Homo sapiens: one gene and its partners. The protein of the gene in region 1 purifies or fractionates together with the protein of each later gene. This does not show direct contact. Each region holds a gene or a part of one and is shown in the gene's direction. Other genes may lie near its edges. The genes, in order: BOD1, CXXC1, MSL3 and DCP1B.

Region 1 (7,151 bases):
TTGGAGAGATGCTAGTAGTGTTGCTTGGTGCTGGGGATTCCTGTGTATTAAAGCCCTGTTTTTGTTGTTTTTGTTTTTGTTTGTTTTTTTTTGAGACGGAGTCTCGCTCTGTCGCCCAGGCTGGAGTGCAGTGGCGCGATCTCAGCTCACTGCCAACTCCGCCTCCCAGGTTCACGCCATTCTCCTGCCTCAGCCTCCTGAGTAGCTGGGACTACAGGCACCCGCCGCCACACCCGGCTAATTTTTTGTATTTTTGGTAGAGACGGGGTTTCACTGTGTTAGCCAGGATGGTCTCGATCTCCTGACCTCATGATCCGCCTGCCTCAGCCTCCCAAAGTGCTGGGATTACAGGCGTGAGCCACTGCGCCCGGCCCCTGTTTTTCTTCTTAATGCGTATCAGATCCAATCTATCATTAGAGATGCTGGAAAACATCAAAAGGAAACAAACAACAACAACAAAAAAGCAGGGATCAGATGGTGCAGATGTAGCCAAAATGCTATAGACAAGGCAATCTCAAGAAACTCTGGATGCTGTTAATTAAGAAATGAACAGCTGTCCAGACTAAGAATTGGCAAGACTCCTTGGATGAATAAACATAGGTAAGAAGAAAAAGAGCCACCTCATGATCACAAAGAAGGACCAATAACTAGTCTACCCCAAGCAGCTTTGGTGTCTAAATGCAGCCCTGGGCTCAGTCTTAGGGCTCTGGAATGCTCTCGCTTCAGGACCAGGATCTTCGATTAGAAGGTCGGAAGGTTACCAAGGCAACTCCCAGATTATCTTCTAACCTTGGGCCTGCTCCAAGCCCCAGACTCTTAGTCCAGTTTAGTCATATATTATGGACAGATTCCTAGATTGTACTTGACCCCTCTGAATATTGACTATATTCTGACATTTGGTCCAGGGCATTATCAAAAGTCTTAAATGGCCTTATCCTATACCTAGAAGAGTAAATTTCCCATTCACTCATCCTTTATTGTTTTTCATTCATCCGTCATATATTTGTGGAGAGCCTGATGTCCCAGGCACTGTTCTTGGTGCTAGGGATGCAATGATGGTTGAAATGGACAATCCCTGCCTTTGTGGAATTTAGAGGCTAAGAGGAGAAATAGAAGTTAATTAAATCACCTCCTGACCCAAATGTAAATTCATGATGATAATATGTTATTAAACATTTGCTAAAGACCAGGAATTGTGCTAAAATGGATTGCCGAAATGGCACTTAAGCCTCTCCACTGTCCTGGGGAAACTAAGGTTCAGAGGGATGATCCAGCTTTGCCAGCTGGGATTCCAATCCAGTGTCACCTGATGCAAAAAGTCCATACATGTGACTACTTTCTTATATCTCCCTTGGCAAATGATAGATCTCATTTCTTTTCCAGTTTCAGTGAGGTCTAGATTTGGGCTTGGGGAAGTTCTACTTTTTCATGTGGCCTTCAACAAAAAATATTCCAGCACCTAAAATGCGTAATTCTTTGGGGTCGGGCAACTTATTACAGACAAGTTTTAATACTGAGAAGCAACAACAATTTGCTACGTGAAGGATACCTGAAAACCAGATTACTACCTAAGCCAAAGTTAAAACAATGTTCCGCACAGCCATTTCCGAATGTTTTGGATTATTAATACAGCAATGGCGCTCTCTGATGACTGCTGGTGTGTATTACATGTCTCTTGAAGGGAAGAATACATTTTGGATGTTGTGGAGGCCTCCTATTCCACGGTTTGGATAAATAATAAGCCTCCCTTCAGCTTGATCATCTTCACTCCTCATCCCCTTCCCCTTTTATCCCTCATCATTTACTTTGATTGCAGAGGGAAGGTCATGGATACAGAATGCAGCCTTTTGTCAATGTTCAGAGACCCAGCAACCAAGACACAGGTCCCCATGACAGATAGTGAAATTGTCACAGTGTGAACCAAGTGCAGACAATCTCCAGGATCACTTACCTATTTAAGTCATGACAGATTCATCCATCATCTCCTGCTAGAATGCTCCTTCTTTTCTGAAGATTATGGCTACACATAATCCTACCCACGCACTCTGTGATGCTATCCCACAGCTTTAGGAAACAGACAGGAATTTATACATTCTCTTTGAGCTAAGAACTATCGTGCTAAGAGCTGGAGACACAGTGATGAACAAGTCGTGGTCCCCATTCTAAATATTACACCCTATCAGGGGACTCAGGTGGCCAATTTGTCTGTAAATCATTCACTTCCAATTATAATAATTGCTACAAAAAATGAGGCTTTGAGTTTCTGTAGCATGGAGGAAATATCTCATTGGATCTAGGGGTCAGAAGAATTTTCCCTGAGGAAGGAGAGTAAGATGTGGGGTGCCAAAAATGGAGAAGGGACTAGTCAGAGTGATCAAGGGCTTGCAGAAGAAAGAACCTGGGGCTGAGGCAGCCTGAACTGGGCTTCTCCTGGGGTTAAAGGTGAGTGATCAGTGTAGAGTCAACCAGTAGGAACAGACATTAGGTAATCTCAAGGATGGTGAGCTATTAAGAGAGAATGTTTGTCATTAACTGACCCATTGTGAATGATTGAGCTGGTGTTAGAGGATGAGTATAATCCAACACCTGAATGTTTCTTTTGAGGGTTAATTTAAACTCTCTTGGACAGGTGTGGTGGCTCACACCTGTAATCCCAGCACTTTGGGAGGCTGAGGCGGGTAGATCACTTGAGGTCAGGAATTCAAGACCAGCCTGGCCAACATGGTGAAACCCCCATCTCTACTAAAAATACTAAAATTAGCCAGGTATGGTGGCATGCGCCTGTAATCCCAGCTACTCGGGAGGCTGAGGCAGGAGAATTGCTTGAACCCAGGAGGTGGAGGCTGCAGTGAGCCAAGATTGCACCACTGCACTCCAGCCTGGGCGATAGAGTGAGACTCTGTCTCAAAAAAAAAAAAGAAAAAAAAATTAAACTGTCTTGAGTACTAAATATTGGTGTGGAGAACATCCTGGATCTTTGCCAATTCTGCATCTTCGCAGGAGCCAAGGATATTGCAGAATTTGCTATTTACATCCCCTCTGCTGCTTGTGTAAGATGAGGAAACAACAATAGCAGACATAATTGCTGAGGTTGGGAGGGGGAGCTGAGCTAACAATAGGCAAAAGATGAAGGGAAGAGAGGATAATGGTGGCAGCTATAGGATTCCAATGGTGAATTGTGGCTACTTAAAAAAATCAGGATATAAAGCCTTACCTATTGTGGGATACCAACTAGCTCTCAGGATACCTCAGGCTAAAATGCAAGATTTAGATCCTCAAAACCTGGGTTCAAATCCTACTTTTCTACCTCTAGGTATGTGATTAGGTTAACAAACTTTCTTCTGCCTCCATTTCTACGTCTGTAAATAGCAATAATAGTAGTATGTATCTGCTTTTTTAAATTATCGTGAAGAAGTGCGTGGAAAGTGCATAGCATCACGCCTGACACTTTTCAATTATTCAATATTGGCTTATGATTGACAATATTTAATATTTGGGAGGAAATCCACACACATATAAGACAGACTTAAGGAAAACTTTTATTTTCTTCTTCACACTTTTCCGTTATTTTCCAATTTTCTAAAATGAGTATGCATTGCTATTAAAACCAAAAGGAGGGAAACTCACAAATTTCTGAACAATAGAAGTTTGACTGTTCCACTGTTTCCGGAATTTCCCGGAACATGTTGTTCAAGAAGGACGTGGGAGTGCATGCTGAAGCACAGATTGCTAGGTCTCGACCCGTAAATACTGGATAAAAATCTTTAAGAAATAATTCTGGTAATCTATACTTTTAATCAGCTCCACAGATGACTGTTATAATCGGGCACTGCTGGGACGTGTTGATTGAATGGGAAGTGAGCAGAGAGTGGGCGGGGAAGGCCTGGCGGGGAAGGCCTGGCGGGTTGCAGCGATCACGAGGCCTGCGCCTACAGTTCCCATATTACCCCGCGAAATCGCGACGAGCAAGCACGAACCCTGCCGGGAGTTGTAGTTTCTCTCGGCTAGGCCGCTGCCTATAAAGAACGCCGGAGATGGCCACAGAAAACTTCCCGCCCCACAATGCAAAGGTCAACGTTGACGCCATCTGGGGTGCGCCTGGAATCGAGCAGGCCGTTTCTGCCGCGTCCACCACAACCTCTGCTGTATCAGAGGGGGCCTTCGCCGCCGCCGCCCCCACCACCGCCCCTGCCGCCATCGCCACCTCCGCCGCTGCCGCCTTGGGGCCCTCCTCCTTCACCGCCCCCTTCACCACCTCTACACGTTCTAGGCCTTCTGTCCTGGAGAAGAAGCTATAGTCGTTCTCCCTTGTGGGCCCGGGGCGCAGCCATGGCGGACGGCGGCGGCGGCGGGGGAACTGGCGCGGTGGGCGGCGGCGGAACTAGCCAGGCCTCTGCCGGGGCAGCGACTGGCGCTACTGGGGCCAGCGGGGGCGGTGGCCCCATCAACCCGGCCTCGCTGCCTCCCGGCGACCCGCAGCTCATCGCTCTCATCGTGGAGCAGCTCAAGAGCCGGGGCCTTTTTGACAGCTTCCGCCGGGACTGCCTGGCCGACGTGGACACCAAGGTAGCTGCGGCCGCCTGGGCGTTGGGGAGCGGGGCTGCACGTGAGGCCGCCGGGTGGCAGCTTTGATTTTCGAAAGCCGAGAGCAAAACAAAAGATAGCTTAGAAATCTCAGCGGTGAGGTCTTACACCGCTTGGGGCAGTACGGAGAGCTTTCTGAGCGATGCACACGTGGGTTCCTGCCTGATACATTTACTACTAGTTGTGATTTTACCCAGTCCCTTCTCCGAACTTGGGGTTTCAATGTGGGTTTTAGAGCCTAGACCGTATCATTCCCAAGATGGAACTCCTCTGAGGCCCTTAATAACAAACTTCGAAACCAAGTAGATAAGCAAGCGTGCTTTAGAATTTCCACCTGTTCCGTACTCACCACTGAGAAGCTGGCATTAAACACAATGATTTGAACACACAGTCATCACCATTTTATAGCTGTTTATTCCTTTTCTCTAGCTCATTGTTTTGCAGACTAGTACGGCGTTGAATTAAGATAAATTGTAGAAACAGCACCCTTATTTTGCACTTCATCATTGATAAAAGGAGATTTGGTGCCTAGTTGAGATCCTAATGCCATTGGTCAGTCCCACCAGTAAAACGCTATTTCACTTTACCTACTCGTCAGGGTGGTTTGGATTCAATGAAATAATGGGTGTTAAGTATCAGACATACAGTAGTTGCTGGAATGTTCATTTTCTTCCTTTTCAAAACTTGTCTAGCCACGACTGTGGTTGTAGGTTAGGAGACCCTGTCACTGGACTCCTGCAGGGTAGTGATTTCTCCTACCAGAGCCTGTCATGGAAACATTTTGCTTACCTCACAGCAAGATTGTGAGCTTAGAATTAGACCTTAAGATAGGGAAAAACGTAGTCTGTTTATTCGTTGAACGTTTATTGGCCTCTAGTTGCCAAGCTGTGCGATTACAGGAATAAGTCACTACCCCATCCTCAAAACTTATAGTCTAGGTTAGAAAACTGACATGTAAATAAACCAGGTGGTAAATACGGATGTAGAGAGAGAAAGTGGTATACACTGTTCCTTCTCCAAGATGAAAAGCCCAACTAGAAGTCTGTCCTTGAAACAAAGTAATTTAATACATATACATCCCAGATCTGTATTGACAGAGCTTTCACCTTTCCTAGGACAAGTTCTCCATTCATATTTCTTATATTCCGTTAGGTTTTGTGTGTGATTTTAAAACAAAAGCGACTACAGTAGCCCGCCCCATCCAAGGTTTTGCTTTCTGCGGTTTCATTTACCCAATTGTTGCGGTATGGAAGTACTTGTGTTCAGGTAACCCCTATTTTACTTCATAATGGCCCTCAAAGACATTCATGCGTAGTGTATATAGGGTTCAGTACTACCTGAGGTTTCAGGCACCCACTGGGGATCTTGGAACGTATCCCCTGAGGGGGGAGGGGACTACCCTCTTGAGCGGCTGGTGAGGGAGAGTGGTTGGAACCTTCCCATGTACAGCTCCTTAGCTGTTCCTTCTGAGAATTCCAGGTTGTTTTAGTTCTTGAAGATAGTGTTTTTTCAGGCATATCTTATCTGAGACCTTTGTTGCTTCAGCCCAGTGGTTCTCAAAGCGTGGTGCTTGGATTAACATCAGCATCACCTGAGAACTTGTTAGAAATGCACATTTTGGGCCCCACCCCAGACTGCTGAAGTATTTAGGGGAAATTGAACAGATGTCTGTAATTTACTTTGCACTGTAATTTACTTTGAACTGATAAGTGAACAGGTGGAGGGGTTGGTAGTACAGTAAAACGTTATGAGTGGGCTCATGAGTTCCTTTGACTTCTTGAACTGAGATGATTCTGTATCGCCTGGGTTTGTTACGTGTTTTGGTGGTGATGTTCACTGTCCTTTGTCCTTTTTCGGTAAACAGTTCGTATCATCTCAAACCAGGTGCGTTATTTTGAGTAGACGGTATGGCATCAGGATTTATGCTTACAAGGGACAAAAATAATCCTAACTGCTTTATGCAAAGGGGAGAATCTATTGTCTTACGGAATCCAGGGAAGGATTGAACGAACAAACTCTCCCAGAGGGTGGTAGGCGTGCGTTTGGAACCAGATATTCCCCATTCGTTCTGTCTTTCATCTCTGTTGATATCTGTTTTACTGTTGGTTCAGAGTGGAGTCATCCATTTGGTTACTAGTATCTCTTGATTACATTTTACAGCTTCTTCCTCTAGAGAGAGGCTGTCAGCTCCAATCTGGGAAATCCCAGGGAATGTCTGCATTGTCTTAGCGTGGCTCAGGCACCCACTCCTGTGGCACCCTCTGCCCTACCCTTGTGAAGAGAGGAAGACAGTTACTAGAAAGAAGGCGTTACTAGGCAGATAGCACATGGTATCTGTGAATTTTACTCCTCTGCCCCCATTTCCTTGCCTTTCTCTTTTCCAGGTTTAGTGGAGTCTTTGAGTTTGCTCTCTCAACCTTTTGGAAGAGGCCAGTCATGGAATTGAGGCCTGCTGGTTCCTTTGTCAACTTCATTTCCCTGACTGTTAGCAAACTTTGCCGCAGTAATGCTGCATAGCAAACTGAATCTCAGCAGCTTATAACCAGCACTTGTTCACATGTTCATGG
Region 2 (2,882 bases), on another chromosome or scaffold:
GGAAAGGCAGAGGGTGGGGTTGAGGGAGAGGCAGAGGTCAGAGGCTGAATGGGGCAAGAGCCAGAAAGGGCTAGAATGGAGCAAGGGTCTGGGGTCTGGGGCTGACTTTGACTCCACCCTGACCTGACTTGTCTTGCTCAACAGAAGGAGGAGCGATACAAGCGGCATCGGCAGAAGCAGAAGCACAAGGATAAATGGAAACACCCAGAGAGGGCTGATGCCAAGGACCCTGCGTCACTGCCCCAGTGCCTGGGGCCCGGCTGTGTGCGCCCCGCCCAGCCCAGCTCCAAGTATTGCTCAGATGACTGTGGCATGAAGCTGGCAGCCAAGTGAGTCATTCCTGAGAGGTTCAAGGGAGTCAGGAAGTGCATGGTAGGGCCTGACCACAGCCTTCTGTATGTCTACCAGTCAATCAGCTATCCACCAGTCACCAAACAGCCACTACCCACTCACCCATCCACCTACCCACCCACCTGCCCGTGTGTCCATCCAGCCACCATTCCGCCAGTCACCTATTTACTTCTCCTTTTGCCATTTGCGTCTATTTTGCCATTCTCACTTACTGATCACCTCACTCATTCTGTTGCTTGCTACCTTCCCTGCAGCCGCATCTACGAGATCCTCCCCCAGCGCATCCAGCAGTGGCAGCAGAGCCCTTGCATTGCTGAAGAGCACGGCAAGAAGCTGCTCGAACGCATTCGCCGAGAGCAGCAGAGTGCCCGCACTCGCCTTCAGGAAATGGAACGCCGATTCCATGAGCTTGAGGCCATCATTCTACGTGCCAAGCAGCAGGCTGTGCGCGAGGATGAGGAGGTGAGCAAGCAGGGGCGCAGCAGAGCAGGGCCTGTACTTTGTCCTTCCCAGCCTTATTGTTCCTTCCATTCCATGCAGAGCAACGAGGGTGACAGTGATGACACAGACCTGCAGATCTTCTGTGTTTCCTGTGGGCACCCCATCAACCCACGTGTTGCCTTGCGCCACATGGAGCGCTGCTACGCCAAGGTTGGGGTGTCAGACTGAGGGGGCGGACCATGTGGGAACATCAGTGGGCCAGTGGGGGACAGATTTGTTGTCTGGGTGGTGTCTTGGGAGGGCATGCAGCGCACATCCACAGTTCCCTCCATTTGTGCTCATCCCTCCAGTATGAGAGCCAGACGTCCTTTGGGTCCATGTACCCCACACGCATTGAAGGGTAAGTGAGGGTGCCACGCAGTGAGAGGTGGGGGGTTAAGGCGGGGGTCAGAAGTGGGATGTGTGTGGAGCTGGGGCAGGATACGGGCAACCAGCCAGGACAGATGGACCTCCCTTCCCTCCCTCTACTGCCCTCTCTACTCCAAATCCCCAGGGCCACACGACTCTTCTGTGATGTGTATAATCCTCAGAGCAAAACATACTGTAAGCGGCTCCAGGTGCTGTGCCCCGAGCACTCACGGGACCCCAAAGTAAGGTTTTCCCTCAGCTCCTCCCATTTTGCCCCTCCTCCCTGCCTCGCTGTCCCACATTCATCCCTTCCTTCCTCACCTCACTTTTCCTTCACTTTTTCCTCTCAGCTTCCCTGCTGCTTCACCCTCCATTCCTCCTTTTCCATGCCTCCTCACCGTTCCCTGAACCCTCCATTCTTTTCCTTCTCCCTCCTTGAGCCCCCATTCCTATTCTCCCTTATCACCGCTATTCATCCCCCCAACCTGGCCTCCTTGCAGGTGCCAGCTGACGAGGTATGCGGGTGCCCCCTTGTACGTGATGTCTTTGAGCTCACGGGTGACTTCTGCCGCCTGCCCAAGCGCCAGTGCAATCGCCATTACTGCTGGGAGAAGCTGCGGCGTGCGGAAGTGGACTTGGAGCGCGTGCGTGTGGTAGGTTTCTGTGCGGTTTTGGTGCTGCATGTGGTAGGTTTCCATGTCGGACGTGGCCGGGGCAGGCGGGGCTGCAGGTGTTCCTGCTTAGGACTCCTGCCGCTCCCTTGGCAGTGGTACAAGCTGGACGAGCTGTTTGAGCAGGAGCGCAATGTGCGCACAGCCATGACAAACCGCGCGGGATTGCTGGCCCTGATGCTGCACCAGACGATCCAGCACGATCCCCTCACTACCGACCTGCGCTCCAGTGCCGACCGCTGAGCCTCCTGGCCCGGACCCCTTACACCCTGCATTCCAGATGGGGGAGCCGCCCGGTGCCCGTGTGTCCGTTCCTCCACTCATCTGTTTCTCCGGTTCTCCCTGTGCCCATCCACCGGTTGACCGCCCATCTGCCTTTATCAGAGGGACTGTCCCCGTCGACATGTTCAGTGCCTGGTGGGGCTGCGGAGTCCACTCATCCTTGCCTCCTCTCCCTGGGTTTTGTTAATAAAATTTTGAAGAAACCAAGGAAGCTGTCTCCACATTGCTGCGGTTGCAACTGTTCCAGACTTCTGGATAAGATGGGGGGCGCCTGCACCCCGCGAGAGCCCAGGGACCCACATTCCCAGCCTCCCACGGGCAGAGGGTCTACGCAGCGCGCCTTCAGTGTGGTGACACCGCCCATGCATGCTCCTGTCTCCCACCCAGAGCTGTCGTCCGCTGTGGACGCCAGGCCCCGCCTTTTCCCCACAAGCCCCACGTTGGGGATCCGCCTCCTGCAGGGGCGCGCCCTCCCGCGTGCCTCAGTTTACCTGCGGTGTGGCACCGCCCCTTTCCCCGCCCCGCGCGCTCCCACAGCTGTTCGGCGGGGAGGAGGGAGCGGGACACGACCCCCCCTGGGGTTGATGTTCGGAGGGACCCACGAACACAGGATAGACCCCAGCGAGAGGTGGGAGAGGAGAGCGCCGGCAGGGCCAGGGAGTGCGCAGGCGCGAAGCAGCTTCCTTGCCGCGTTCGGTATCGGCTGTGGAGACCGCGGGAGGGAAGGGA
Region 3 (7,424 bases), on another chromosome or scaffold:
ATGTAATCAAATACCCAATCCTAAAATCACCTCTTCATGACATCATCAAATGCAGAGGAAAACCTTACTTCCTTAACTCCTTCACAAGGAGAAGGGCTTCAAGCCACCAAATCATGGAACACAAACTCAAGTCTTCCAATAAGCCTTTTCTAACTCCCTCACTGAGGCTCCCCACAACTTCCCAAGGCGCGCCTTCTCCCTGGCTGAAGTAAACAATATACAACTTGTTCAACGCAAGTTCAACAAGTGTGTTCCTAGTGGTCTTTGGCTGGAGGGCACTGATGGCAGTATTCTGGAACGCTTTCTTCATAATATAACCACAATGTAGGTAGCTTGGTTTTTCCCTTGGAACTACATCCCTATAACATCTGAAGAATTACGAGTGGAAACCAAGAAGCAGTGAAAGTCAACTCCACTTGACCTGAGAAGCACCAACAAGGATTAAGGATTAAGAAGCATTGCAACTTTTGTAAAAGGATCACTATAACTTTTATCAGAATATTCATTAACCACAAAATTATTCTTAGGATGTAGGTCTGCATATCACCTAAGACCAAAAGAAGAAAAAAAAATCCAATTGTAAGGTCATCCAGTTCTAAGGTCAAAGTTGTAAGATCATAGATTGTTCTTAACTTTATAAATGGGTTGTTCCAGAAATTCATTTAAAGTTTGTTTCTAACCTAAAAGAGACATTCTAGTTGAAACCGTATCATAAATGGTAACTAGGTTTACCCTTCATTCCCAAAGCCTACTGAATACTGAATACATGTGAAACAATATTTCAAATGCAACATCAATTATGTCTACATGTCCATGGAAAAATGCATTCTCACCATCAGAGGTCTGTCTCATCAGTATCACCAAAATTAGCAATAGACAACATACCAGATGCCAATAACCTAACTCTACAACTGCAGGAGGGGCGTGATCAGGATGCTTTTGCTGCATGGAGGTTTATTATGTCACAGAGCAAGAAGTTTGGCGTTAGGCATCAGGATTAGTTAATTTAGTGCGTCAGGGGCTCAACAGCTCCCCAGTGACCCAGGTGAGCGAGTGCTAGCCTTGGGCTCTCATCCTCAGAGCCTCAGTGACGATGGCCAGCTCCGTGGTGCCAAGGTGGCTACAGCACTGACACCCTCTCCAACGCCGCATTCTGATGCAGATGATAACACCCAGTGAGGAAGAGGAGACTTTATGCCAGATGTATTTCTTTTGGGGGGAGGCAGGTGGAAAATATTTTCCAGAAGTACTCACAGTTCCCCATTTTAACTCGCTATGAGAATTTCTCATTGGCCAGGCGTGTATCACATGACCATACTTAAACCAGTCACTGTAAGAGGAAGGGGATTGCCGGGATTGGTTTAGACCAGTAGTTCTCAGCCCCGCCTGCACAATGGAATCGCCTGGGAACTTTGGAAACAAAATTCCAACTCCTGGCAACAGTATTTTAACAAGTTTTCAAAGTTCCCCAGCTGTTCCAAATGTATACCCAGAGGTGAGTCCTACCGTATTAGCCCGATCAAGTGTCACTCCAGCCCTGGTGAGAGGTCTGCTCTAACAATGTGGGATGGCAAACACCTGAACAAAATTGGGCCTCTGCCAGCGGGGCGGCGGGCGACGCAACTAACTGGATCCCGCACTGCACTCACCTTGCTAAGAGAAGCAATTCCTGTAGGTGACCTATAATGAGAAATCAAAAAGATTTGTTATAAGATTTAATGGTTATCTTAATCCCGACAAAAACAAGACCATTCTATAATCATGCCCGAATACAGACGAAACTACTGTCCAAACCTCAAAAACTGGAAAATGAGGAAAACACCTAAGTTGCAATTCAAGAGTGCCTTCCTCTCTGGAGCTTTTTCAGATACTCTCCCTCCTCCTAGAGAGAAGTAAGCTCTTCTGTCTCCTCTATTCCACACCAGCTTTATCAGGGTATGCACATAAAGCTTGAACTTGATTGCTTGCTGCTCCGCCCTCCTGAAATGTGCCCTCTGGGAGGACAGGGGTAATGTATGTATTCTACTTTGTGTGTCTAGCAACCAGCACACAGGAGGTCCAATAAATATTTGCTGAATGAATGAATGAATGAATGGGGGACACGGAGAAACAGATAAGAAATGCCTAATGTCAAGAGCAAATATTTACCCAGCCCTTATATGTCAGGCACTACACAAAGCCATGTACACTGAATTGACTCATTGACTCCTAAAAAACCCTATGAAGTAGGAGCCACTATTTCCTTCATTTTAAACATGAACAAAGTGCATTACAAAGAGACTAACCAGTTGTCCATGGTCACAAGCTAGAAAGTGACAAGCATGGGACTGGGTCCTGGAGAGTGGTTTGCAGAGCTGGCCATGTTCTTAACCTTTACACCCGAGAGGAAAAATGATGTCCTGCATTAAGGGTGGAGCCCTCTCTAGTGGATCCTAATCTGGAGGAGGACTGTAAGGGGTGCTGCCATTGGCAGGCTTTTTAACTTTTAGGTTCCTGAAGGCTTTTGCATTCTTGGACTTTTTAGAGGGACGGGGAAAGAGGAATTCCTCAATGACATAAGAAGGGGTGGAAATGCGGAGAAACAAAGGAAAGCATCTAAAATCCTATCCCTGAAAGGGTAGAGCCTGCAGCAGAACTCTCTCCAATCATGGGCAGGAAAAATAAAAAGGTGAATACTTCAGTTACGGTTTACACAGGACGTGCAATTACATGTGCTTCCAAGCCGCCCCTGCCATTTGTGGGGAACACCACCATCTACTGTTCTCATCTCTGATACACCACAACCTGGAGAGGAATCATGGTTCCAGTTCTAGTTTCTGCACCGTATTACCCCAAAGGCCATTTGACCATCTTCCCCCAACCTTTAACTCCTCTGTATAGCCTTATTCTGGCGGATGCAGCTATTACTCACCCAATTCCTTGGGCCAGAAAACCTGGAAGTCTCTCAAGATTCCTCCTTCCCTCTCCTTCACATCCAATTGGCCACTGAGTTTTGTGGGTTCTATTTCCTAAATCAATCTGTTCATTCATTCCATATTATGTGCCACGAATACGCCGTGATGAATTGGATAAGACCCCTACCCCCAGCTTCAAAGAGCTTACTGTCTTAATGAGGTCATTTTGCAAATGAACAACCCATTCTATAGCACAGTGGTACATGCAAGAAAGGGGTTAAGCAGAGTCCTGGGAGGGAACACCTCAGGGCTTTATGATTCATCTTGGGAAGCCTGAGGGCTTTTCTGTTGGCATGCCCACGCTGAAATGTGAAGGATGTATACCAGGAACCTGGTGAAGGAAGCGTGCAGAGGGGAAGCAAATGCAACTTTCTGGAGGCTAGAACAGAGAAGGGGAAGTTCACCAGGTCCGCAGAGATTAGCCTGGAAGCTGGTCTCCAGCCCGGTCCTAATCCAGTAATTACACTGCCCAACGGCTTTCCAAAACTCAAAAGAAAAAGCCCAGCACTGTCCTTCCTGTCCCTGGAAGTTTGTCCTTCAAGTCTCCCATCACTTGTCATTCGCTCATCAAGTATTTACTTAACATCCACTCTGTGCAGGTACCATATTGATAGCGGCCTCAAGGGTGCTTCTATTTAGGGAATTTTTAGTCTATTGGAGCAGATAGACCGTGGGGGGCATTCCGGGGATGCTGGGGGCTGTCAGGCCACGCTAGAAGCTGACACTGAAGACGTCAGCTACTCTTTAAGGACCCATCTGCCTCGCTGCCCACTGCTCAACCCGTCACTGGGGGCTCCAGGCCTGCCACCGGCTTGTCCTCTGAAGGGATAAGCAAGTGTTCTATTCACAGCCCGGAGTGCCCTTCTGCCCTCGCCCGAGGCCACTGCCCGCCTGGGGCCAGCTCCAGCGCTGCGTTCTCCAAGCGTGGCCACACTCATCGGCGCGCTGCTCTGCCAAGGGGGCTGACGCGGCGCGCACGGCCAGGGAGCTCTTGGGGGCAGACGCCGTCCAGCCTCCCGGCCGCCGGGTGCCTACTCCAGACCGGCTCTCTCTCTCCCTAGGCGCCTCCCACGCCCGGGCCGGAGAGCGGGCGCTCGGGGCGACGGACGACCCTGCGCGCACGTGGGCGCAGCCTGGAGGCCGCGGGGACCCTCTCCCATGGGGGCGACGGGAGACGTCCTGCCGGTAGACCTTGGCCAGGGGGTCGCGCTCCCCGCCCGCACCCCTCCCGGAGCCCCGGCGGGGACGTGCGGGGACGCGCCCGGGCGGGAGCGCGCGCGCCAGGCGCCTCCGAGGTCCCGGCAGCGGCTCGGGGCGGGCGGAGGAGGGGCCGAGGGCGGGGCGGCCGCAGCCTCCGCCATTCCCGGCCCCCCCCGGCCACGGCGCACCGCCTCCCCGCCCCCGCCCGCCCTCCCCCACCGCGCGCGCTCCGCCCGCCCCGGAGCCTCGCCCTCCGCCACGATGAGCAAATGAGCGCGAGCGAGGGCATGAAATTTAAATTCCACTCAGGGGAGAAAGTGCTGTGCTTCGAGCCTGACCCCACCAAGGCGCGAGTGCTGTACGATGCCAAGGTGCCGCCGCGGAGGGACAGGGAGGAGGCGCGGGCTGGGGGACCCGGGACCGGGGGCGGGGGCGGGGGCGGACGGCCGCGCGGAGCTGAGGGACCGGCCGGGCTCCTCGGCCTGCGAGGAGCGGTGCGGCCGGCAGGGGGCGCTCACAGGGCGCTACGCCCGGGAGTCGGGGCGGGGTCTGGGATGCTTCCACTTCCTTCCGTCAGGCCGGGCGGCGCACGCGCGGTTGGGAGCCTCGCCCATGCTTTGTCGCGTTACCGGGGCTACCGTTTGCGCCCCCGACTGCAACGGTGGCCGCTGAGGGAGGAGGCTTCTCGAATACGGTTTCTGTCTTCGCGTTAAATGTCTCCTTCTGTGCGGCCTGGTGCCGGGTGGGCTCCTGTGGGACGCCCTGGCCGTCCGATCCAGGTTCTAATTCATAGTTACACGGCGCTGGCCGCTGACTTGCGACGTTGTGTCCCTGGGACCCTAGTCCAGTTTAGGCCCCATCCCGCCTGTAGGCCGTGAACCCCATCCCGAGGGCAAGGTTGGCCCAGTGTTTTCGTACCCCAGGGCCTTGCAGCATTTACGTTTTCAAACTCTGAAGGATTTACGTGGGTCTGACCATAGTTGATGGGAATCGCGCCCCGGGCCGGTCCACCTAAGTCTCCGGGAGCTGAGCCACATCTTGCAGCTCCTCAGATTTGGGTGGCGGGCAGGAGTTGGCACCAGGTCTCCCAGATCCCCAAGGAAAGCACCCAGGTGCTTTCATTTCAGAGACCTGGGTTCCTAGGGCCACCTGGGCGAAGCCTTAGGCGGCAGGGACAGGGGCAGTCCCAGGTGTGTCTTTGGCGATGTCTGGACAGCTCTGTCCATTAGAGATGCTAAAGGACATCCCTAAAGGGATGAGCATATTCTGCCTTCAGTTCCCTCCCCTGCTGCTCCTGTCTTTTAACCGCGTCTGCTATCCCTCTTTCTCCTCGCCCTCCAGCCTCCTCGGGGCGGAGGGGGGGGGGCACGCCCCATCATTAGTTTTAGTTGTTCCCTCTAGGGACACAACAGGGAGGGATTCCAGAGTCTCCAGCTAGCCATCCTGGCACTGGACATAGGGGAGCCCAGGAGACTACAACTCCCAGAGCTCTCAGGGCTGCAGCTTTCATCTAGCCTGGAGTCTCTCCTTAGTGACAAATCGGCTGGCCAATGGCTTCAGAAGCCTCACACTGTCTCACGCTCAGAGACCAATCACGGGGTGGTTGGACGGATGTTTCCTATTTTGAAGGCGTCCACTTGGGGGAAAAAAATGAAAGGAAAAATATTTCAACCCGGCTGTCGGTCTAAAAGAGGAGAGAATGCTTTCTTTAAAAAAGGGTCTGTGAATTAGTTTTCCTGATCTAACTTCTAATTTTCTGTATGTTCTGCCATTTGTGGGAAATATTTCTTCGTTTCAGATTGTTGATGTTATTGTTGGGAAAGACGAAAAAGGCAGAAAGATCCCAGAATATCTGATCCATTTTAATGGTTGGAACAGAAGGTGAGTGAACTTGTTAAACCAGACTGAAAATTGATTGTCTTTGCTGCATAGAAACATTGCAGACTTAAGTTTCAGAAACACTTGTAGAGAAGTTTGTTTCATTTCCTGCTTTTACTTTGTAGCATTGCAAACTTCTTTAAGTTTTTGAAACACTTGTAGAGAAGTTTGTTTCATTTCCTGTCTTTACTTTGTAGCGTTGCAAACTTCTTTAAGTTTTAGAAACACTTGTAGAGAAGTTTGATTCATTTCCTGTTTTTACTTTGTTACCAGAACTTGCCTATTGTGACGAATAGTTACTTTTAAGTCGATTGTATTTGGATTCTGTCTGGGTGATTCTGGAAACCCCAGTTGTTTCTGTGTCTGAATGAGTTACTTTTTCAGTTTATTTGCCTCCTCTTTGTGATTTTAAAATATTTAAATCGTTTTCTAAAAATGTAATTCTGGGGCATTTCTATTGCTTTGAGGTACTTTTAGTCGTTGTTTCATATCAAACTAAAGTACTGAATTTTCCTTTTTTGTTCAATTAGCTGGGATAGATGGGCAGCAGAAGATCATGTGCTTCGTGATACCGATGAAAATCGTAGATTACAGCGTAAATTGGCAAGAAAAGCTGTAGCTCGCCTGTAAGAATACAAAAATCAAGATATAAATGTTATCCAATGTGTTTTCTCTTAGTGTTTTAGATTTTTATGATATAAAAGTAATACAATGACAAATATCATTTATTAAATAATTTTAAATATTTAAAGTGTGTAAGGGGAAGAGTGTTCCTATGGTATTCTAAATAACAGTGTTTTCAGAGTGGTTATTGTATAATTTTCTGAAATGGAAATTACCATTTATGTTCTAAAGTTTAATAATTTTTCAAATGTATTTCATTGTTTATTATATCTTGTTTTGATCTCAAGACTCACGAGTTCAATGTCAAAACTTATTTCAGTTGTTTGCTACTCTTTTTCAGGAGGAGCACAGGAAGAAAGAAGAAGCGCTGCAGGTTGCCTGGTGTGGACTCTGTCTTAAAAGGCCTCCCCACTGAAGAAAAAGATGAAAATGATGAAAACTGTGAGTAGCTTCACTTCATTTCTTTTGGCTGAAAGAACTTCCACCTAGACTGAGAGAAGGATTCACTGAAATTCTAGACAGGGAAACACTTCAAGCTCATTATGTATAATATTTGCCCCATTTATTTTTGACAATTAAAGTAGCAGTCAATATAAGTCAGTAAATCAGTAATAGAACGTTAGCAGAGTCATGCTTGTGACTACTGCCCTCTCGGCCAGCATCTTTGTACAAACCCCTCATGGGTGTGTTCTCATGGGATCTGTTCTCTTTTTGGCACCTCCCAGGCCTTGGTCCCATTTATGAATGCAACAGGAAACTGTAGGATCC
Region 4 (6,941 bases), on another chromosome or scaffold:
GGGAAACCCTTGGAATCCTGGATCAACAAGACACCCAACACAGAACAGCAGACTCCTCTTTTCCAGGTAAATATGTACCAGGGGCAAAATAAAACAGCCTGGGCAGCATAGCAAGATCCTGTCCCTAAAAAAAAAAAAAAAGTAGCCAGGCTTGGTGTCACACGCCTATAGCACCAGCTACTGAGGAGGCTGAGGTGGGAGGATCCCTTGAGCTCAAGAGGCGGAGGTTACAGTGAACCATGATCGTGCCACTGCACTCCAGCCTGGGTGACAGAGCGAGACCCTGTCTGTTAAGAAAAAAAAAGACAGACAAAGAAAAAGGTATTACTATAATGCAGTGAAATGTAGAGTCCACTTCCATGCTCTAGGGACCAATGTGTCACGTACATTTCTGTTTGGAGCAGGGTGCACCTCCGTGCATCTTGATTGCCTGAACTTTCTACCTGGAAGGAGAATCTTCACTTTGGTTAACAATCTGAGAACTTCCCCCAACCTTTTTGAGAGCATTACTTGTAGAGTTAAATCTTCGTTATATTAGGAGGTCTGAAGACCAACACAGACATGGGAGAAAACCGTAATTTTTGACTGTAGGAACTTAGTATGGTCTGCCTTGAAATCAATCTGGAATGCCAAGCAACTGACCTCCTCTTGTTTTTCAGTCCACAGTAAATTATTCACTTATTTAGTAAATATTTTTGAGCACTTACTACATGTCAGGCATTGTCTACATGTGGGTACATAATGATGAAGAAAACAGACTCCTTACCCACAGCCCATGCTGTAGGTTCTTGAAATAAACAAAAAACAGCCTATTTCCTCCTGAAAGGTGCAGCCAGTTTTTATCTTTCTCTGTATCGTCAGTATAGCCTACTGTAGATCAGGAGAGGTATGCATGCCACCCACCTCCACCCCCCACACAAACTGCCAGAGAGGGAAAATATGACAGTTTTTAGAAAGATTCTCTCCTTTAGAGAAGATGCTTTTCCATGTCCATCACTGACTTGGGACAGTGAGGAAACCACAAGCTATTGATCATCTGCCTGTGGGTAACATCTGGAGATCTGACATTGAATTGTTTTCCCTTTGGATTGGAACACATTCATTGAAAGTACATTGGGTTTAAAAATTGGAAAGTTCTCCCTGTGTATCACATATATCATCACTGGCCCTTTGTCATGTTTTGTTATGTACCTTTTTTTGTTTTTTGAGACAGAGTTTCACTCTTGTCGCCCAGGCTGGAGTACAATGGTGCGATCTCGGCTCACTGCAACCTCCACCTCCCGGGTTCAGGCGATTCTGCTGCCTCAGCCTCCTGAGTAGCAGGGATTACAGGCACCTGCCACCACACCTGGCTAATTTTTTGTATTTTTTTAGTAGAGACGAGGTGTCACGATGTTGGCCTGGCTGGTCTCGAACTTCTGACCTCAGGTGATCCACCCACCTCGGGCTCTCAGAGTGCTGGGATTACAGTCGTGAGCCACTGCACCTGGCCTGTTATGTAACTTATAACAGTTTCTCAAAAATCTTGAACTTTTGGCTGGGCATGGTGACTCGTGCCTGTAATCCCAGCACTTTGGAGGTTAAGATAGGAGAATCGCTTGAACCTAGGAGTTTCAGACCAGCCTGGGCAACATAGACCCTGTCTCTACAAGAATTTTTTGTTTTTAATTAGCCGGGTATGGTGGCATGCCACTGTGGTCCCAGCTACTTGGGAGGCTGAAGTGGGAAGATTGCTTGAGCCCAAGAAGTTGAGGCTGCAGTCAGCCATGTTTGCACCACTGCACTCCAGCCTGGGCAGTAGAGTGAGACCTTGTCTCAAAACAAAAAATTCAGTTTTTTGAAAACAAAGACCTTAGGCATGTGCCAAAAGTCTTTGTGAGCCCCTGAGTCAAAGTGTTCTCATTTATTATTTATTAACATCCCAAATCTGAGTACCGACTGCTATAGAAACAATATTTATAACTCCCACTCCCCCTCATTTCAGTGTTATTGTCCCTTTTTTAAAAATGTCTGCTTTTTTCCTCTTTGATGATTTAGAATTAGAAGCATGCGATGAATATAGTCTGACTTAAATTTCTGATGTACAACTCCCTTGACTTTTCAGTACTCACAAATATCAAGAGCCGAGTGAGAAAGGCAAGCATTTCAGCAGCCCACGCTGTGCTCAGAATGCTTGACTCCACCTCCGGGAGCATCACTGCTCAGCACCGCTCCTCGAAATGTCATGTAGGGACAAGTTAAAAGAAACAGCCTGCCTTCCTCTAGGCCAACTTTTGCTCAAAGAGACGCTAAGGGATTGATTATAAAATTACAGCAACTTCTAGCTTGCTGGCCTCCTTGCCTCCCTCTTAGGAGTTCTTTCGGGGAGTTCGGAGGCTGATAAATAACATTCTTTTTCTTCCCTGAGTTAGAAGCAAATGATAGCTGTAGGAGTCAGTCAGATAAGGATCAAAATGTCACTTGCATAACTGAAAGGGCTGTTAGAAAACTTGGTTTCAGGTCTGTTTGCCAAGGGAGTTAGACTCAGCAGACAGGCTCTGGCAGGGCTGAGCAACAGGCCGCCCGGGTCAGCCCAAACACATCAGCTGCGGAAGCTGAAGATGAGGGCTCTCTGCAGGCAGGCAGATCCTGTCAGGGAAGGACCCAGAAGGGGTGGACCCACACATCACTCTCCCTCCCCACGAGAAGTGAGTGAGGCCGCAGGAGGGGCGGGGAGTTGCTCTCACAGCGCCTCCTGTGCTCCGGGGTCAGGAGGGGAAATGGGGAGGCCCCTAACAAGGGTGGCAGCTCACATAGGTTGTGAGACCTTTAGGTCAGGGTCATGGACAACCAGGTCTAAGGAAAAGGTCAGTAGTCCTAAATGCACTTGCCAAATACTGGTAGCCTGAAAAATAAGCTGTCACCCAGAGGCCAAGCTGCATATGCAGTGGAAAGAATAGTCCCCACAGCAGACGATACCAGAGCTGCTCAGTGATGCTGAAGGAAGGTGCATGGAGCAGTGGAGCAAGAATCAGTTTCCCATAAACTTTTCTCAGCTAGGAAAGCTGTGGACAGGGAATGCTTAGACCACCCGTATCTGCCGCTGCAAGCTATCATGCCGTGAGCTGCTCCTGAACCCCGCTCTCTGTGTGTATTTGCTGTGAGCAGGTCATCTCACCTCAGCGCATCCCTGCTACAGCAGCTCCGTCTCTGCTTATGTCCCCCATGGTGTTCGCACAACCCACCTCCGTCCCGCCAAAGGAAAGGGAGAGCGGCCTCTTGCCTGTGGGAGGCCAGGAGCCACCTGCTGCTGCCACCAGCCTCCTCCTGCCCATACAGAGCCCGGAGCCCTCCGTGATCACCAGCAGCCCACTCACCAAGCTCCAGCTCCAGGAGGCACTGCTGTACCTCATTCAGGTAAGCAAGCACGTCATCTCCCTTCGCACCTGACCACGCCTGTTGGCCTCCTGGCTGCAACTATGAGATAAAGACTCAGCCAAGGCCTGCTTAGCTTCCGTGAGAATAACAGGTGTGTGTAACAACTCATCCTGACCCCAGCGGCTTCTGTGCTCAGTTAGCTAGGTGTTATTTATAATACCAAGTGTGGCTTGGGTGTCTCAGCTCTTCAAGGATTTTGTAATTTGAAGGACTGTCTAAGGCCTCCAAGCTGTCACCTGTCAGAAGAGAAGGAAGCATATGCTGGGGATTAAGCAGTCCCTGAGAGGACCCTGGGTGCTGGAGGCCCAGACAGAAAACTCACCATTGGGAGGTAGAGGTGGGAGCAGTCCTGGGCAAGGGGCCATCTGTTGAGTGGGGAAGAGGCCACTGAGCGAGTGGAAAACAGGGAGGGAAGCAAATAATGGCCATGGCTGCTACAGGTATGTTTTACAAGTCATTTTGAAACCTGCTCATTAGGACGGGATGGAGTGACAGGACTCCTTGTGAGCTGCTAGCCTCACTTGCCTATGAAATTATGAAATAATAATGAGTGCTATAATAGCTAACACTCCACAGAGCTGGCGCCGGGCCCTATTTTCAGTGCTACACACAAGCATATAACTCATTCACTCCTTACATAACAACCCTGTTATTTTTCCCATTCTACAGACAAGGAAACTGAGGCTGAGCAACTGGCCTGAGGCACGGAGCTCGTACATAAGCAGGGCTGGGATGCACCCAGCCTGGCCCCCGAGTGCCACTTCCCACGTACTCTCCCGTGGGCCACGTTCACCACATGAATGTTGGCAGGGACCAGCCTCGGGAGAACATTCAGCACAGGTGCCCTAGCAAAGCACACCCAAGAAATCAACGGCAGTCCTTGAAAAGTGGAACATTTGTAGCCAGACAGACTTCAGACACCCCAGTTAACATATTTAGGTGTCTTTTTGGTAGATAATCTTTAAGAAAACTTGTGTGGTACTTTGCTTAAGCATCAGACGGCCTTTAGAGAGCAGGCCAGCCCTTCTGCGGTTGTCTTATCCTACTTAAAAAGACAGTGGTCTCAATTAGTACAACATTTTTAAAAAGGTTCCATGTTGGCCGGGCACAGTGGCTGCTCACGCCTGTAATCCCAGCACTTTGGGAAGCCAAGGTGGGAGCATTGCTTGAGGCCAGGAGTTCAAGACCAGCCTGAGCAACATAGCGAGACTACAAAAGAAGGAAACATGTTTGAGGAAGAATGAAAGGAATGGGGCTAGAAGTCAGCAGAAGCATAATAACAATCAGAGATAAATAAGGTCAACAGCAAATGATTGAGCCCTACTAATTCATAAGTAAATATCAGGATAAAAATATTTGCCACCTTTTAAAGCTATTCATAGTAAGCTCAGGAGGAATTAGACATCTGTGAACCTCTTTACTTTGAGCCAGTTTCTTAAGTTGTAATTTAAAAGATCCATATGTTTTCTGGCTGATTCCCTTCACATTGTCTTGAGACTCTACTCCAGAGTAGTGGCTGAACATGGCGGATTAGAAATTACATTCCCCTGCCCTCCACTCTGCGTGCATTTTACTTCTTCCCGTGTACCACACCTCATATTCCCAGTCACTCAAGCAGTCTGTTTTTAGTTTCTGCCTCTTGTTAGGACACAATCTCATGCAGAGGAACTTTGTGACTACTTTGCAGGAAAAAGAGGGATAACATCACTCTCTTCATTGCATGAGAATGATGCTAAATCTGTGTGGGGTGCCAAGAGGGAATGAAGGGGGAATGTGAAGTGTGGGTGAATTACTAACACTGTAAAGAATTTGGGTGGGAGGGAGAAGTCTCTAGAATTAAAACATGAGGAAAACCACTGATTAGACCGTGATTCTCACTCCTTAGCCAGGCAAAAGAGCCCAGAGATTACCAGTCTTACTCCTGCCCACTTGCCAAGGCTAGAAACTTTCCATAACTTATGGGAAGACTTATATTAGCTTTGATGAAGTACTGATGAAGCATATTGCAAGTAAAATCCTAAGTAATGCCCAAAACAAAGCAGACACATTGTAGGTGACTTGGAGGGCCTTTAAGAACCACAGTGGCTCATGCCTGTAATCCAACACTTGGGGAGGCCAAAGTGGGAGGCTCACTTGAGCCCAGGAGTTCAAGACCACCCTGAGCAACATAGTGAGACCCTGTCTTAACAAAAAACTTAAAAGCCAGGCATGGTAGCACGCACCTGTAGCCCTAGCTACTCTGGAGGCTGAGGTGGGAGGATCGCTTGAACCCATGAGGTTGAGGCTGCAGTGAGCTATGATGGCACTACTGCACTTTAGCTTGGGTGACAGAGTGAGACCCAGTCTCAAAAACCCAAAAAACAAGAAACAAAAAAACACACCACAGCAATCTCTTAACCAAACTTTGAGACCACTGACTTGGATCATGTCCTCCTAACTCCTCTGTCTGCTGGGGCTTCATGTCTTTTCATGCAGCAGACCCAGGCTGTTCTTGAGTAAACCTTGCTCCATGCTGCCATGTGTCTGGGCTGCCCATCTGTGCTGCATGTAATGAGCTCTTGCTGCTGTGCATACTGACCATGGAAAACCATCAGCTCTGTCCGGCCTTGCCGTCAACCCCACTTAACATTCACACATGCAATTAAAAACCACCAGCTGTTAGACAGGGAGAGATGAGTGTCTCAGTATCCAAAGGCCAGTTCAGCTCTAAGACAGAGGAAGCCTTTTGTGTCTGCCAACCAAGTAACATTCTCTTGGGTCTTTCGATTTGTTTTCCAGAATGATGACAACTTCTTAAATATAATCTATGAAGCCTATCTCTTCAGCATGACTCAAGCAGCCATGAAAAAGACTATGTGACAGCAAGGCCTTTTAAAACTGATTTTCAAGGTCCTTCTAGAACTCCGGCACAAGGTTCTTTCATGTTGAGTGTTGTTTCCTTCAATGTTTCTGCCTTTTTTAAAAAAAAAGTATGTGTAATATGAAGTAAAATGTTTCAGACTTTTTTTTATACTCAAGTGTTTTTTAATTATTATTATACTTTAAGTTCTGGGGTACATGTACAGAACATGCAGGTTTGTTACATAGGTATACACATGCCATGGTGGTTTGCTGCACCCATCAACCCATCATCTACATTAGTATTTCTCCTAACGCGCTTCCTCCCCTAGTCCCCCACCCCGCGACAGACCCCAGTGTGTGATGTTCCCCTCCCTATGTCCGTGTGTTCTCATTGTTCAATTCCCACCTGTGAGTGAGAACATGTGGTGTTTGGTTTTCTGTTACTTTGTTAGTTTGCTGAGAATGATGGTTTCCAGCTTCATCCATGCCCCTGCAAAGGACAAGAACTCATTCTTTTTTATGGCTGCATAGTATTCCCTGGGTGTATATATGCCGTATTTTCTTTATCCAGTCTATCATTAATGGACATTTGGGTTGGTTCCAAGTCTTTGCTATTGTGAATAGTGCTGCAATAAACATACGTGTGCATGTGTCTTGATAGTGGAATGATAATCCTTTGATTA

Evidence for each region.
Region 2: the proteins of BOD1 (region 1) and CXXC1 purify together in Homo sapiens (affinity purification with mass spectrometry; 5 studies listed by BioGRID and IntAct, with this or other methods). This does not show direct contact.
Region 3: the proteins of BOD1 (region 1) and MSL3 purify together in Homo sapiens (affinity purification with mass spectrometry; 4 studies listed by BioGRID and IntAct, with this or other methods). This does not show direct contact.
Region 4: the proteins of BOD1 (region 1) and DCP1B purify together in Homo sapiens (affinity purification with mass spectrometry; 2 studies listed by BioGRID and IntAct, with this or other methods). This does not show direct contact.

Annotation. Positions count from the first base shown.
Region 1 is NC_000005.10:173,613,615-173,620,765, reverse strand, and holds the start of BOD1 (biorientation of chromosomes in cell division protein 1), read left to right. Parts: upstream 1-4,115; 5' UTR 4,116-4,329; coding exon 4,330-4,566; intron 4,567-7,151. UniProt on the Homo sapiens protein: Required for proper chromosome biorientation through the detection or correction of syntelic attachments in mitotic spindles.
Region 2 is NC_000018.10:50,281,825-50,284,706, reverse strand, and holds the end of CXXC1 (CXXC-type zinc finger protein 1), read left to right. Parts: intron 1-144; coding exon 145-329; intron 330-605; coding exon 606-813; intron 814-891; coding exon 892-1,002; intron 1,003-1,142; coding exon 1,143-1,192; intron 1,193-1,345; coding exon 1,346-1,442; intron 1,443-1,700; coding exon 1,701-1,853; intron 1,854-1,967; coding exon 1,968-2,114; 3' UTR 2,115-2,360; downstream 2,361-2,882. UniProt on the Homo sapiens protein: Transcriptional activator that exhibits a unique DNA binding specificity for CpG unmethylated motifs with a preference for CpGG.
Region 3 is NC_000023.11:11,753,841-11,761,264, forward strand, and holds the start of MSL3 (MSL complex subunit 3), read left to right. Parts: upstream 1-4,396; 5' UTR 4,397-4,423; coding exon 4,424-4,525; intron 4,526-4,741; exon of another isoform or gene 4,742-4,867; coding exon of another isoform or gene 4,868-4,933; intron 4,934-5,806; exon of another isoform or gene 5,807-5,952; coding exon 5,953-6,035; intron 6,036-6,562; coding exon 6,563-6,658; intron 6,659-6,996; coding exon 6,997-7,097; intron 7,098-7,424. UniProt on the Homo sapiens protein: Non-catalytic component of the MSL histone acetyltransferase complex, a multiprotein complex that mediates the majority of histone H4 acetylation at 'Lys-16' (H4K16ac), an epigenetic mark that prevents chromatin compaction.
Region 4 is NC_000012.12:1,945,541-1,952,481, reverse strand, and holds the end of DCP1B (mRNA-decapping enzyme 1B), read left to right. Parts: coding exon 1-66; intron 67-3,147; coding exon 3,148-3,396; intron 3,397-6,195; coding exon 6,196-6,276; 3' UTR 6,277-6,429; downstream 6,430-6,941. UniProt on the Homo sapiens protein: May play a role in the degradation of mRNAs, both in normal mRNA turnover and in nonsense-mediated mRNA decay. May remove the 7-methyl guanine cap structure from mRNA molecules, yielding a 5'-phosphorylated mRNA fragment and 7m-GDP.